Linked DNA regions of Homo sapiens: region 2 is linked to region 1. A link means that fine-mapping ties the variant in region 1 to the expression of a gene that starts in the linked region. Tissue or cell type: whole blood. Region 1 holds a variant in brackets; the other region holds the start of a gene. All regions are shown on one strand. Distances are from middle to middle.

Region 1 (8,103 bases):
TATCTGATGCTGTCTCCAGGTAGGTAGCAGCAGAATTGAATTGCTTATTGGTAGGGAGAATTCCCCACACATTTAGTCACAGAAATCTTCTGTGTTGGTTGTTGTGTGAGAGCAGAGGAATAGACTCATAATATGTCTTTTGCGTCTGCTGCTTTTTACTGAGCATAATGTTTTCAAGGTTCCTCCAGGTTGGAGCATGCACCAGCACTTCCTTAGTTTCATTGCAGAATGCTGTTATATTCTATAGATATAACACGTTTTGCTTATCCATTCGTCAGTGATGGACATTTGAGTTGTTTCTACTGTTGTTTCTACTGTTTCAACTGTTGTTGCTCATAGCAACAATAATGCTGCTATGAGCATTTGTGTACAAGTTTTTTTTGTGGACATACATTTTCATTTCTCTTGATTATATATCTAGGAGTGTAATTGCTGTGTTATATGGTGACTTTATGTGTTTATTGGCTGTTAGTATATCTTCTTTGGACAAATATCTATTCAAATCCTTTACCTATTTTTTGATTGGGTTGTCTTTTTACTGTTGCATTATGAGAGTTCTTTATATATTCTGTATATAAGTTCCTTATCAGATAATTGCAAATATTTTCTCCCATCTATATCATTTCTTTCTTAATAAGTTCTTTGAAGCACAAAAATTTTTTGTTTTGTTTTGTTTTGAGACAGAGTCTCGCTCTGTCACTCAGGCTGGAGTGCGGTGGTGCGATCTCAGCTCACTGCAACCTCTGTCTCCTGGGTTCAAGGGATTCTCCTGTCTCAGCCTCCCAAGCAGCTGGGACTACAGGCATGCATGACCATGCCCAGCTAATTTTTGTATTTTTAGTAGAAACGGCGTTTCGCCATGTTAGCTAGGCTGGTCTCGAACCCCTGACCTCAAGTGATCCGCCTGCCTCAGCCTCCTAAAGCACTGAGATTACAGGCGTGAGCTACCGCTCCTGGCCAGATTTTTTATTTTGATGAAATCCAATTTGTGGTTTTTATTTTGTTGTTTATACTTGTGGTGTCATAACTAAGAATACATTGCTTGAATCAAGGTTACAAAGATTTACTTCATGGAAGTTATAAAACTTCTAAGTATCTTATAGTTTTGTCTCTTACATTCAGGTCTTTGATCCATTTTGAATTTTGTTTGTATATGTCTATGCAACTTCATTCCTCTTTAGACGTGGAACTCTAGTTGTCCCAGCACCTTCAGTTGAAAAGACTGTTCTTTTCCCTGCTGAATGGAGTTGGCACCCATTTAAATAGAAATATTCTTTTAAAGCAAGCTTGTCCAACTCCCAGCCCGTGGGCCACATGTGGCCCAGGACAGCTTTGAATGTGGCCCAACACAAGTTTGTAAACTTTGTTAAAACATTATGAGATGTTTTTGCGATTTTTTTTTTTTTAAAGCTCATCAGCTGTCGTTAGTGTTAGTGTATTTTATGTGTGGCCCTAGACAATTCTTCCAATGTGGCCCAGGGAAGCCAAAATATTGGACATCCCTGTTTTAAACCAAAAATCAAAACACTTGGATATTTTGGACAGCTCAGAGGAGCTTTCACAAAAATTGTTTAAACAATTGAATGTCTCTACCAAATAACGTACTATTCTTAAAGTTGACTTAGTGTCAGTTACAGAATTCTAAGTTGAATTTCAAGACCTAATGTTGACTGGCTGGCAGTTTTCCTTCTTTTTGTATTTAATATATTTTGTTTGTTTGTTTGTTTTTAGAGATAGGGTCTCGCTCTGTCACCCAGGCTGGAGTGGAGTGGCACGATCATAGCTTACTGAAGCCTTGACCTCCTGGGCTCAGGCTATCCTTCCACCTCAGCCTCCGGGGTAGCTGGTACTACAGACATGTGCCACCACACCCTGATAGCTTTTAAATTTTTTGTGGAGATGTGGTTTCACTATGTTGCCCGGGCTGGTCTCAAACTCCTGGCCTCAAACAATCCTTAAGCCTTGGCACCCCAAAGTGCTAGGATTATAGGCATGAGCCACCGTGCTTGGCTTTTAATATCTTCTTATGCCGTTTTATGTAAGAGAGAAAGGTGAAGAATGGGTATTTACCAGAATTAGAAATGTGCGTTAGTGTTGGCTCTGTCGTTCTGTCAAAGTGTGGACAGCAAATAGCTGTCCTGGCCGTTCCTGGGTGGAGTTGGGGATGTTGAGCCATCTGCTGAAGGGCAGCTCTTCCCGTGAGTCATCTTAAGGGAAGTTTAAAAATCTCAGCTGGGTGTGGTGGCTCACGCCTGTAATACCAGCACTTTGGGAGGCTGAGGTGGGCAGATCATGAGGTCAGGAGTTTGAGACCAGCCTGGCCAACATAATGAAACCCTGTCTCTACTAAAAATACAAAAATTAACCAGGTGTGATGGCATGCACCTGTAGTCCTAGCTACTCGGGAGGCTGAGGCAGGGGAATTGCTTGAACCTGGGATGGGAGGTTGCACTGAGCCGAGATCACACCACTGCACTCCAGCCTGGACTACAGAGCAAGACTCCGTATCAAAAAAAAAAAATCTCCAGCTGTTGTGGCAGCTCTGCTGGGCAGCACTTAACTATGTGTCAGATTCAGTGACTGCGGATAGCAAAATGTCATGATTTACTTAAACAGGATCATGTGGAAGGGGCCACTTTGGGAAGAACAGATGAAATTGGTGTTTTACGATTGTCAGTTCAGTGCCTGTTAATTGGGCTATTGCAGCAACTGAATACTGATAGTTAATGAGGTGATGCTATTGTTTTCTGGGAGAAAACCCAACTCAGAGGCAATTGGGTATTTAATATTGCCTTAATAATGACATTAAAGGAAAAAAATGAACATTTTCCTTTGAGCCTGAGAAATTAAAAAAAAAATAGCATAAAATGAAGCAACAGTAGTATTTTTGCTGTCAATGTTAGGGCTGTTTGTCTTCCTTAAATATATCAGTGGAAAAACTTGGAGTGTAGTTGGAGGTAGGAAGAACTACCGAATTAACTTAAAACTTTTGATTTCTAAAGTGAAAACCCAGGGGTAAAGATTGCATTCCCTAATTATATCCAGAATATATTGCTTGTTTACCTTTAATTTGTAAGGAGCAAGTTTTTGTTTGTTGTTCAGTTTGTTTTTAAAGAATATGTTCTGCTGTTTACTTTTGCTGACCTATCTCTTCTCAGTGGAGCAGGCCAGAGGTGAATGCAGGACACTCTAAGCCCTCTCTCTTGGTGTCCCTTAAGTGTATTCTGAGCATATTTGGGCCAAGAGGAAGTTTCTGATAAATAATATAGAAGATATTTTTATGTAACAGTTATTTCTGGGTAATTCACACTATGTTTCAGAGCTTGGATTTTCTTCGGGTAGGTGTGGACATGGAGTGTAGTTCTAACTTTACAACCAGAGCACCTGCTTTGAGACAAATTCATGAGCAACCATGTAGGCCAGCAAGCACCTTTTTTTCCACAGGCAGCGTCCTTGTGAACTTTCCGCTTGGATCCTGACTCTGCTGTTAGTAGCCTATGACCTTGGATGAAATGTAAGGGAATAGAAACTGAAGCTATCTGTAAAGTGAAAGAGCTGGTGCCTGCCTTATTGGGAGCCTCTGGGTTTATGTATGAGTCAGATGCGTAGAGTTGCTCACCATGGAGGGCCCAGGGTAGGCAGGCATTATTGAACAACTGCTCCATGTGCTCTTTTCAATCTTTGCAGACCCCACCCACGTCTCCCTTGCTCAGACCTGGCTCCCCATGGCTTATGAAAGGGGGCTGAGTGCAGAAGGTGGCAGGCAGGACACTGGACAACCCTCTGTGGCTTTTCCTTACCCTTCGTAGTACCATGAGATTCTGGCTCTTCCCGTCTCTGTGTTTCTGCCTATGGGTCCTTCCACATGCAGTGCCTCGTCTTCCCTCCTTCCCATCCATGTCCTTTTGTCTTCAGGCACACCCACTTGGAAGGAGCCCATCCTCTCACAGGGTCTGCTGGCATATTCTGCACCTCTCAAGTACTCATATTTCCTCTGCAATCTTTTCTATGTTGTTTTTCCTCTGCTCAAGGGTAAATTGAGAGTAAGGAAAGTATTTTTCTAATTTCTTTGTATTTTCCATAATATTGTAAGTACAGCAGGTACTCAGTAGTTTCTGGACAGATTAGAAAATGTTTTACTTATTCTCCAATTAATCCTAATCCTAATTCTAAATTAATTAATCCTTGTTGCCTTTCTTCTAATTGTTTTATATATATGTAATATGTAAATTTAAAGAACATCGTATGTTTATCATCTTAGCCCTTAAACTAGATTTAATGGTTTTTTGTTTTGTTTTGTTTTGAGACAGAGTCTCACTCTGTTGCTAGGCTGGAGTGCAGTGGTGCAATCTCGGCTCACTGCAGCCTCCACCTACCAGGTTCAAGCAATTCTCCTGCCTCAGCCTCCCAAGTATCTGGGTCTACAGGCATGCACCACCACACCCAGCTAATTTTTGTATTTTTAGTAGAGATGTGGTTTCACCATGTTGGCCAGGATGGTCTTGATCTCCTGACCTCGTGATCCACCCGCCTTGGCCTCCCAAAGTGCTGGGATTACAGGTGTGAGCCACCGAGTCTGGCCTAGATTTAAATTTTT[A/G]AGTGAAGATGGTAATATCTGCAACTGTGCACTCACCTTCCTTGGGCTCGCACAGGCATCCTGTGTTAGTAGGTGCAAGAGTGTGTTTCAGTTTCACACAGTCACAGCTCTGTTGTGCTCTCAGGCACATGAACTGGTGGCACTGAGCAGGTAGCACTCTTGTGAATACATTTATAGGCCAGGGTCTTTCTCCTCAACAATTAGAGTTGAACATGTTTTGTTTTTGTTTTTGTTTTTCTAGTAGCTTTTAAAAAAAAATTATCCTTTCTCTAGAGCATCAGGATCTAGTAGCCTTGTCTCCTAAATACTCATTTTTAAAACCTTTCTTTCTTGTTTTTTTTTTTTTTTTTTTGTACAGGCAGTTGTGAAAAACTTCAGGACAAAAATGTTTCATTTAAGGACTTGTGCTGCTAAGTTGAGGCCATTGACGGCTTCCCAGACTGTTAAGACATTTTCACAAAACAGACCAGCAGCAGCTAGGACATTTCAACAGATTCGGTGCTATTCTGCACCTGTTGCTGCTGAGCCCTTTCTCAGTGGGACTAGTTCGAACTATGTGGAGGAGATGTACTGTGCTTGGCTGGAAAACCCCAAAAGTGTACATAAGGTAAGGCTCGCAGGGCTGTGGGTCTGCCTCATGTTGGTGTGTTGGCCTGTTCCTGACTGGTCACCAGGTAAGTGTGTGCGTCCTGAGGAGTCAGCGGGCAGACAGGCAGCTGGAGCGCCATACCAACCACCGTATCTGTATCGGACCCAGCATAGCCCCAGCAGAAGCCATGGTCCCTGGATTGGCGTCCAGCAGTAGACACTGTGCTTAACTCTGCGAGGATGTGAAGAAGCATGTGTGTGACCCTCCAGCATCTCCGCAAGGGCTGCTTCAGGATGAAGCCGCTGAAGAAAGAAGAAAGAAAGAAAGTGTGTGGAAAAGAGCAGGACCTCAGGAAGCTCCTCCATTCTAACTGTCTGGAGAGGATACTTTCATTTGTAACATGCCGTAGTCACCTCATGTAATTTCTGTATGAATGGCCTTTTAGCTCATTATGTTCGTATTTTTTTCCTGTTTGTTTCTAACTTCTCTGTATTACATATAAGGGCATTTTCTAAACTTTTCACCACATGATTACTGATGTAAGTCATGTCTTGTTTTTTTTGGTTTGTTTTTGTTTTTGTTTGTTTTGTTTTGTTTCAGACAGAGTCCCACTGTTGTCCAGGCTGGAGTGCAGTGGCGGGATCTCGGCTTGCTGCAACCTCCGACTCCTGGGTTCAAGTGATTCTTATGCCTCAGCCTCCCGAGTAACTGGGACTACAGGTGCACGTCACCACGCCTGACTAGTTTTTGTATTTTTAGTAGAGATGGGATTTTACTTTGTTGGCCAGGCTGGTCTTGAACCCCTGGCCTCAAGTGATCCACCCACCTTGGCCTCCCAAAGTGCTGGGATTACAGGTATGATCAACCACGCCTGGCCATGTCATGCCTTGTGACAGAATTCCTTTATTCTGTTTTGAGCCAATAAATATTTATAGGTTTTGATAACCATTCCTTGATTTTCAGGGAAAGCAGCCAGCCTCCTGAAGGAATTGGGAAGACAGTGTAGTATAGTAATAAGAGGGTAGGTCCCAGCGTTTCTAAGCTCCTGTGCCTCATCTGTAGGTGGTTGAGAGAATGAAAGGAGGTAGCATGAGCAGGGCACTCAGCTCGGAGGCAGTGCCTAGCCAACATTGCTTATCTTCACTGTGAATTTGGCTTTTTTCCTACTCTTGAATCTTGGGGGCTTATCACCAAAAGGAAGTCTGCTTCCACTGGGCTCCTGTAAACAAGCTTTCCCTTTAAGTATTAGTGACACTTACGAATTTTTTTTTTTAATTTAGCTAGGTGTGGTGGCACATGCCTGCAGTTCTAGCTACTCCACAGGCTGAGGTGGGAGGATTGCTGAAGCCCAGGAATTCGAGGTTACAGTGCGCTGTGATGGTGCCACTGCACTCCATCCTGGGCAACAGAGGGAGACCCTGTCTCTAAAATTTAAAAGAAGGTGGGGGGCGGGTATATTCCCATGACTGCTGGGCCACCAGGTCCCATTTTTTCAGGAATGCCACTTTGTCTCAGCCTTATTGCCCAGATCTAGCCCAGTCCTTCCCTGTTTCCATGGCAACCTGGGAGCAGCCTTGCTTACTGGGCAAGGTGAGACCTGGTTTTCTGTAAGAAATCTGTAGTTTATTTCCCTAGTCTGTAAACAAATTGCCCAGAAGAAGTGCTCTGTGAAACTGGCCCCTGCTTTTGATGTGATATCATGGATGTTACTGAAGACTGTGGTTGCAGATTGTGGCAGATTTCACACACACACACCCCTACACACACACACACACACACACACACCCCTACACACACACACACACACACACACCCCTACACCTGCAGATTATATCTAGAATAAAACTGAGCCCTGAGGTTTCAGAATCAAGGACTATTATGTGCCCAGGCCTATTCTTTTGCCTTCCTTTTCTCAAACATAACCTTTTCTTGGAACCAACCAAGTTGTTTTCAGTGATGTTAGGATTTGGAGTCAGTAGCTCCTAAATGACAGTGCCTAGTGTCTGAAAGGTAAAGAGCACCTGGCTGAGACTGCATGTCCTTGTGAAGGTTTGGTCCTCAGTGATTCATGGGTAAAAGGTGCACTCTGTGAGCAGTGTGGCCACAGTGCTGTGGACACTGGGCCTGTTGCCATCATAGCTGCTCCTGCTGGAAGCTTTTGAAGATGGTTTTTGTGGGGGCATGGTGGCTTTATGTCTTTATGCCTGTTTCTGTTGCTGGGAGTCTCCAGGGGGCACAGTGTGGGAATCACATGCATGCTCTGCCCCTCCCTGCTTGTAGAGGGGAGGGGACAGGATGGTTAAAAGTGGGCGTGCCCTCCAGCAATCCCGGTTGTCATCCAGCACGGACTTCATCACTCCTCTGCCATCCCAGACGGCAAGGTGGGTCCTCTTTAAGTTGAATTGGGCCCAGTATGTGGTGTGTGCATGTTTTTTGTTTGTTTGTTTTTTTGTTTTGTTTTGTTTTTGAGATGGAGTCTCACTCTGTCGCTCAGACTGGAGTGCAGTGGTGCAATCTCAGCTCACTGCAACCTCCACCTCCGAGGCTCAAGCGATTCTCCTGCCTCAGCCTCCTGAGTAGCTGGGATTACAGGCCTGTGCCACCACGCCCGGCTAATTTTTGTATTTTTAGTAGAGACGGGGTTTCACCATGTTAGTCGGGCTGGTCTTGAACTCCTGGCCTCGTGATCCGCCTGCCTTGGCCTCCCAGAGTGCTGGGATTACAGGCGTGAGCCACGGCGCCTGGCCATGTGCATGTTTTTCAAGGGAGATAATCCATAACTTCTGTCCAAATTTCAAAGCATCTGTCACCCATGAAAGTTTAGGATCCATAGCCTTAGAGGCATTTCACTTTATTTGTGCTCTTATTTTAGATCACATAGTTTAAATAGACATAATAATAGTTTAAATAGAGATAA
Region 2 (8,103 bases), 50 kb before region 1:
AGGCAGACAGTAAACACAACTTTGGACAAATTACCTCAATTTGTTTATCTCTCAAGGGGGACAGTGCCTGCCACTCAGGGCAGAACAAGGATGGATGGTGGAAGTGGCCTGTCACACTATGTTGTGACCTCTGTCATCATTATCATGGAGTTTTAAAGCATTGTGGAAGAAGCCTGACCCTGGCCCAGGACCACAAGAGCCAGGCTCTTACCTCCACTGAGAAGCTCCTCAATCTTGCCTAAGTGGAACTGCTCCGTGGGAAGCACAAAGGTTAAGACTATGCCTGGGTTGTTAGCGCGTGCTGTCCTGCAAGGGAAGACAGTGCAGCTTGCATCTCCAACCCGCAGGCTCTGTCCAGCACACCCCAAGTCCCTCAGTGTGCCTACCATGCAGATGCCTGGGCCGTCACACTACTACCTGCCAGCTCGATGGATGTAGGCCTCAGGGGTTGGGGGAAGATCAAAGTTGAGCACAGCAGACACATGGTGGAAGTCTATGCCCCGGGCCACACCTGCTTCCGGATCAGAGGCCCTGCAGAGATAACTCAATGTCAGCCGGACCCTTCCTCTCCTCTGGGCACGTATTCACACGCTGAATCAGCAAAACTTCCTCTAAATGCCTGTAGATCATAAGACCCTGACATACAGAGGACTCTCCAACAATGGAACCGTTCCAGGAGTCAGGGTTTCCTGGGGCAGCCTGGAGCTTTGACATGTACCCAAATCTCGGCCTGACCTCTGTTCTGGGACAACAGCAGAACTCATTGCCCTACATGGTGATCTGAAAACCAACTCTGAGCTAGTCAAGCCTTCAGCTGGACAGAGACTGGAGAGTTGGGGGGTTCCTTTTCCCTTCAGAAATATGCTCCCTGCAAGTCACAGCCATACCACCAATGCAGGATGGGCCATCTCCCCTGCAGGGCTCTGCATGCCAACAACCCCGGCAGTTTTGCCCTTCGTGGTGCATGTGCAGTGTGCACCATCCACTCCCTTCTCTATATCCAGGCAGCTGAGCAAGAACCTGTGGGGCTCTCTGGGCTACACTACCAGCCAGGCCTGGAAGGTTTGGCTCCCTGCTCTGTGCACTCTGGTTTTAGTCTTCCAAAAAGCTAAAAACACAGGCATTTCTGGGGAGGGATGGAAAAAGAGGCATGGACTCACTTGTCCCCTTTGGGCCCTCGGCCCCGACGCTTGCCCTTGACTGGGGCCCCCAGGACTTCAGCATCAGTTGCTATGACACAGTCGTAGAAGCCTTGGTTGAACTGTGAGATGATGTGGCACCTGCAGCCAAGAGCGGACAGAGAATCAGCTCAGCAGAGCAAGCTCAAGGCCCCTCTGCCATCCCTAGTATCACAGTAACCATCACCCTTTCCTTTTTCCTCTTCTTAATCTCTTTCCCTACTTAATCATTGTGCCTCAGTTTCCTCAGCTGGAAATAATTATAGGGTTTTGTTTTTTTGAGACAGAGTTTCACTCCTGTTGCCCAGGCTGGAGTGCAATGGCACGATCTTGGCTCACTGCAACCTCCACCTCCCGGGCTCAAGCAATTCTCCTATCTCAGCTTCCTGAGTAGCTGGGATTACAGGTGCCTGCCACCATGTCCAGCTAATTTTTGTATTTTTAGTAGAGACGGGGTTTCACCATGCTGGCCAGGCTGGTCTTGAACTCCCGACCTCAGGCGATCCGCCCACCTCGGCCTCCCAAAGTGCTGAGATTACAGCAGGCATAAGCCATGGTGCCCGGCCATGATAGGTATTTTGGAGTTGGGAGAAGTCAGTATCAGTCACATCTAGAACCTGGCCCCTACTAAGTGCTTAAGAAACAGAACATTAACTGGGTCCCCTTTCCATCTCTATCTTCAACTTATTTCAACCAAGATGTTGGCTGTGGCAGACCTGGAGCGCAGTGGAAGCTCTCCATTGAGCACACAGGTGGGGATGCTGAACTGTTCCAAGAACAGGCGTAGCCGGTAACTCCGTTCTAGAGTGTTGACAAAGAGCAGAGACTTGCCCCGAATCAATGACAGCTTGAGCAGGGCATACAGCAGGAGGAATTTGTCTTCCTCAGTCTCACAGACCACCTGAAACTGCTGTAACTGGTCTGGCCCAGGCAGCTGGGACTCCTGTAACTTAAGGGTAACCTGGGGGAGAAAACAGGCCTGTGGTCAGAAAGGAAAAGAACACAGAGATGTATGGCCACTTACTCACCAACCAAAGCATCAACATTTTAGTGCAGGGCAGAGATGCATTTAAGGATTCCTGGCACCCTAACTCTCCTCCAGTTTTGTAACCTAAAACCCCAAAATGCCCTTATTGTTGTGGTATATAGAGTATACCATATAAACCATATATAAAATACTTCCAAGCACAGAACAAAGAGAAACACATCAATAAAGGACTACATTGAGAAGGGAAGGCCTACAGCAACAGGCCTTCTGAAAGGTAAAGTTTACTTAAGATGAGAACCTTGGCCTTAGAATTTTGGCTCTGCTGCTCAAAGCTGCCCCTTAGGGGAGGTCCTTGCTCAGGATTTTAGGCAAAGCATGGCCTGAAATGGGAGACATCCCTTGTGGACACTTGGAAATATATAGTGATTTTAGACCACTGGCTTTTAGTGCCTCAGGACCAGGGATGAGACACTAAGTGACAACTGTCCCACCCAAAACACCAAAGAATCCCCTAAGAAGGAGCATCAAGATCTTTGAGTGCCCCCATGTCTGCAGCTCCAGACACTTCCATGGTGCCTCTTACCGGGTTATGTAATATCAGCTCCTTGAGTGCTTGTACGTCCTCGTTAAAAGTAGCTGACATGAGAAAAGCCTGGTAAATCCGGGGCAAGTGACTGAAATGAAAGAATCCAATCAGATTCCAGCTCCAAGGGCCGCTAATTGTAGTAACTGGCTTCCAGCCACCCCGCTCTCGTCCCAACTCCTACTCACAGATGTTTCCACTAGGAATCACACCCACCTCTGCCTTACCAGAGGAGACTCTTGAGCTCTTCTTCAAAGCCAAAGGAAAAAAGAAGGTCAGCTTCGTCCACCACCAAAAGCTCCAGGGAGTCACGAAGTTTCAGGCTGTCTTGCTGCAAGTGGCTTAATATGCGAGATGGGGTCCCTACTACCACATCTGGCTTCTCCATCAGCACAGCTCTGGAGGTGGACAAGACATCAGTATCAGGCAGAATGTAGCAGCTGGGATCTCACCCTGGATTTGCTCTCTTTTTTGCCACACACAAACCCAACCCCACAACACTGTGTAGCTTCATTCAGGTACAGCTTTGCTGCTTTTACCCACCTCTGAGAGACTGAGTCTTCAGCAGCTGAGACATTGGCCACTCGGACATCCCGAGCACAGTAGGTAGCCAGCTGCTGAATCATGGACTGTGCTTGCCGTGCCAGCTCCTTGGTAGGAACAAGAACAAGGCCTCTCACTGCCTGTTCTACCACCGGACCTGTCTGTAAGAATATGAATTAAAGACTTTAGCCAGCAGTGCACATCACTGTGTCCACGTGTCTCTACCCCTTCCAGCCTACCTGACCCATCTGCTGCAACACTACTTAGCAGTACTTTGATCATCTATCACTCTGCCCGCCTCAGAATGCAGAGTGGAGAGTTCTTTCCCCAGGCACTGACCCTCAAAAAGAATAACGTACTCTGATGTTTATGAAGCTACTTTAAATATACTAGTTATGAAGCTAAATTCTCACAATAATTCTGTAAGTAGAAAAGATAGATGTGCTCCCTTTTTATGTAAGAAAGAAAAGAAAGTGCTTTGTCGAAGATTACGCAAAGGTTGGTGGTAGCAGGGCCGGACAAGGATCCAGGTAACCTGAACTCCAGCCCAGAGTGTTTGCCACAACAGCACCAGGTTCTCAGGCCGGCCTGCACGGGTACAGGGCCAAGAGAAAACCTCAGACAAACGGGAACCGCCCTTCCCAGGCTTTTGGAGCTTGCCTCCTTCCTCCCCTCAGCTCTCTCGTTACCCACCGCCTTCCTATGGAGCAACAGCTGCAGCATCGGAATAGCATAAGCGGCCGTCTTCCCGGAGCCCGTGCGGGCCCGAGCCAGGAGGTCCTTCCCTTCTAGGGCCAGTGGGATGGCCTTCTCCTGGATCAGCGTAGGTCGCGACCAGCCCAGATCGGTGACAGCCTAGGAGACCAGGAGTGCGGTTTAAGCGGCGTGAAGAGCGATGGCGCGCCCCGCAGAGCCCGTAAGCCGGCTCCCCAGCCCTCGCGTGTACCTGAAGGAGCCGGGGATCGAGGCCCATGTGTTCGAAGCCCAGTGCTTCAGAGTCCTCCATGGCGCTGCTCAGTAGCGCAGCACGCACGCGCTGCAGGAAAAACGCCACCGACGCGAGCGGGAGCAAAGCAACAACCAATCGGCTTCGGAGACGAAGTCACTTCCCGGAAGTGCTGGCGGCCTAGGCTTCCGGTACTCGGACGGAGCTCTGCGACTGCGCAGTCCCTAGGACTGGGTCTAGTAGGAGGCGGTGGAGCGGCCGTGCTGGGGTCGACGGGGTACTTTGGACTACAGAGCCGCTCCACTGGCTCTTCCGGCGTTCCCGGACGCCGCTGACGCACCTGATTCTCGCGACCTGCAGGAGAAGCCTCGGCCGGGGCGAGGGCCGAGGTCGTGACGGGCATGACCGTCTCTCTGCTTGGTTAGGGTTAGTGTCCCGCCGGGCACATCACCCTATGAATGGAGCCACTGAGATAGACTGGGCTGAGGAGAACCGGTTGGAATAATGAGCCATGGCAGCAACTGCCTGAGAGAGAGGACCGGCGGGTTGCTGTAGGGCTCCCTAACCGGACTGCCTGTCAGAAACCTGCACAGCTTGGTTTCTGTTCTTTGTGTCCCAAATCTGACTCGGGTCACCAGTTAAGACCCGTGTCAGACTTCTGACCTACAGACTTGCGTCGTTTTAAGCCAGTAAATTTGTGGTAATTTGTTACAGTAGCAATAGGAAAATAATACAGGTGAGGACTAAGAATCCTAATCACAAATCTTTTTTTTTTTTTGAGACATGGTCTGACTGTCACCCAGGCTGGCGCGATCTCAGGCTCAAGTGGTCCTCCCACCTCAGTCTCCTGGAAAGCTAAGACTACAGGCACGCACCACCACGTCCAGTTAGCGTGTATGTATGTATGTACGTACGTGTGTGTGTGTGTGTATGTGTATATATGTAACTCCTCCTCCCCTCCCCCCTCCCCTTCTCTTCTTTTCTTTCTAGATGGGGTTTCGCCACGTTGCCCAGGACGGTTTTGAACTCCTGGGGCCAAGCGATCTGCCTTCCTCGGCCTCCCAAAGTGCTGGGATTGCAGGTGCGAGCCACTGCTCCTGGCCCATAAGTCTTTCAGTGTAGAAGAGGGAAGCAGAAGAGGTCAAAGTGGTGCCATGTGAGAGCTCAACCCACCCTTGCTGGAGGAAGGGAGCCAGAGCCAAGCTGGAAAAGGCAAGGAAACAACCTTTGTGATTACATTAGGCCCATCCAGATGATCCAGGATAATTTATTTTACAGTCATCTGATTAGCAACTTAATTCTCTTCTGTCATGTTAGGTAACATATTCATATGTTTCAGAGTGGTAGGCCATTATTCTACCTACCATACCACCCAACACAAATCTACATTAAGACTATATCTGAGTGTTGCACAGGAATCTATGTCAACAAGCTTCCAGGATGATCCTGTGCATCCTATCTGATGCAGCCCAGCATCTGAGTACCAGAGACTAGCATCTGGCTGTTAGGTTAGGAGAGATCAGCTCATGCACCAACAGGTAGTCATGCTGGGACCAAATGATGAAGATAGGTACAACTAGTCCCAGTGAGAGCTGGGGAATTGGGCTGGGATAATAGAGGATGTTAAGAATGGAGTGTCCCCTCAACCCCAGAACTTTTTTTTCTTTTTTTGTGGTAAGGAGGGAGAAGGCTGTTTGGTAAGGATGTTGTAAACTCTGAGAAAGCAAGAATTTCAAAAGTCAAGGGTAGTATTGGGGGGAAAATCACTAGAATTTGTGTGTGTGTACCCTAACTACTGTTTTGGTTTTGTTTTTGTTTTTTAGAAGGAGTCTCACTCTGTCGCCCAGGCTGGAGTGCAGTGGCATGATCTCAGCTCACTGCAAGCTCCACCTCCCGAGTTCACGCCATTCTCTTGCCTCAGCCTCCCGAGTAGCTGGGACTACAGGCACCTGCCACCACGCCCGGCTAATTTTTTGTATTTTTAGTAGAGACAGGGTTTCACCGTTGTTAGCCAGGATGGTCTCGATCTCCTGACCTTGTGATCCGCCCGCCTCGGCCTCCCAAAGTGCTGGGATTACAGGCGTGAGCCACCGCGCCCAGGCCCTAACTGCTGTTTTTTAAAAAACTTTTTAGGTCACAACCTATCTGTAAATATGACACACCAGTATGGAAATCCTTATTCTTCTCACAGCCACCAGCTATTGGCCCATCCACTGACTATCCCAATTCCACCTGCCTTATCAGTGGAAAGGTGAAATGTATGCCCACTTTTTCCTCACACCATTCCCCTTTCTATCAAAAACTACCAAGAGAAACCCAGGACCTACCAAAATAGTTAAGATGTGCTCCACTGTGTCTACTGCCAGCCAAACCTGTTGAAGGCTGGCTCAACCCTAATCTGTGCCTTCCTGTCTTCTCACAAACGTAGTCTGATTTGCTGGCTAGATTTCTAGTAACAGCCACAGAGCAGAAATGTGTCCCTTCCCAATATGTCACATAATCCCCAAGAGCCTCAGGCCAGAAGTCCACAACATGTAACTAGTTCAAAGGATAAAATTTTTCTCTGCATTAATTCTAACATGAGGAATACTGAAAACTCTTTTAAACATCTGAAGAATTTCAGCAATTCACAATTCACCTTACTGGAGTGTTACACTGTCATCCAGATTTAGAAACAGGAGGATATAAAACTATTAAATGGAAAAGCCTAGAGAACTAAATTGCATTTTTTTTTTTTTTTCTGAGACAGAGTCTCCCTCTGCCCCCCAGGCTGGAGTGCAGTGGCTCGATTTCTGCTCACTGCAACCTCCTCCCGGGTTCAAGCGATTCTCCTGCCTTAGCTTCCTGAATAGCTGGGATTACAGGCACACACTACCATGCCTGGCTAATTTTTATACTTTTAGTAGAGAGGGGTTTTCACCATGTTGGCCAGCCTGGTCTCAAACTGCTGACCTCAGGCGATCCCCCTGCCTTGGCCTCCCAAAGTGCTGGGATTATAGGCGTGAGCCACCCCACCTGGCCCTAAATTGCATTTTTTTTTTTGTTTTTTTTTTTCAGATGGGATCACTGTTGCCCAGACTGGAGTGCAGTGGCACGATCATGGCTCACCGCAGCCTTGACCTCCCGGGCTCAAGTGATCTTTCCACCTCAGCCTCTCAAGTAGCTGGGACTATAGGCATGTGCCACCAGCTAAATTTTTTGTATTTTTTGCAGAGACAAGATTTCGCCATGTTGCCCAGGCTGGTCTCGAACTCCTGGGCTATAGGGATCCACCCACCTTGGCTTCCCAAAGTGCTAGGATTACAGGCGTGAGCCACCGTGCCCAGCCCACATGTATTTTTAAGAGTAAAAATAGCCAGGCACAGTGGAGTATACCTGTAGTACCAGCTACTTGGGAGGGTAAGGTAGGAGGATCACTTGAACCTGGGAGCTCAAGGTTGCTTTGAGCTGTGATGGCACCACTGCACTCCAGCCTTGGGGACAGAGCAAGACCCCATCACCTGTGCCCGGCCAGCTCACACCTGTAATCCCAGCACTTTGGGAGGCGAGACGGGTCACCTGCGGTCAGGAATTCAAGACCAGCCTGGTCAACATGGTGAAACCCTGTCTCTACTAAAAATACAAAAATTAGCTGGGCATGGTGGCGGGCGCCTATAATCCCAGCTACTCGGGAGTCTGAGGCAGGAGAATCTCTTGAACTCAGGAGGTGGAGGTTGCAGTGAGCCAAGATTGCACCACTGCACTCCAGCCTGGGCGACAGAGTGAGACTCCATCTCAAAAATAAATAAATGAATAAGATAAAATAAAAATACAAAAATTAGCCGGGTGTAGTGGTGGGTGTCTGTAATCCCAGCTACTCAGAAGT

Evidence for each region. PIP is the estimated chance that this variant, and not a neighbour inherited with it, causes the effect.
Region 2: it holds the start of DDX56, and the variant in region 1 is fine-mapped to the expression of DDX56 in whole blood (TOPMed, PIP 0.98).

What each region holds. Positions count from the first base shown.
Region 1 is chr7:44,619,362-44,627,464 of GRCh38, forward strand. OGDH (oxoglutarate dehydrogenase) reads left to right here. Exons shown (of 23, transcript NM_002541.4): 2 at 4,956-5,204. The coding sequence starts at 4,983. Among named protein-coding and RNA genes, the nearest start is that of OGDH, 17 kb to the left of the region's middle. RefSeq lists an enhancer at 3,294-3,603 and a silencer at 4,762-4,821. The variant A/G (reference allele first, on the strand shown) is at 4,598.
Region 2 is chr7:44,569,598-44,577,700 of GRCh38, forward strand. DDX56 (DEAD-box helicase 56) reads right to left here and starts at 4,311. Exons shown (of 14, transcript NM_019082.4): 1 at 4,239-4,311; 2 at 3,986-4,147; 3 at 3,293-3,453; 4 at 2,977-3,147; 5 at 2,750-2,840; 6 at 1,895-2,139; 7 at 1,161-1,280; 8 at 418-531; 9 at 212-306. The coding sequence starts at 4,298. RefSeq lists an enhancer at 3,928-4,077.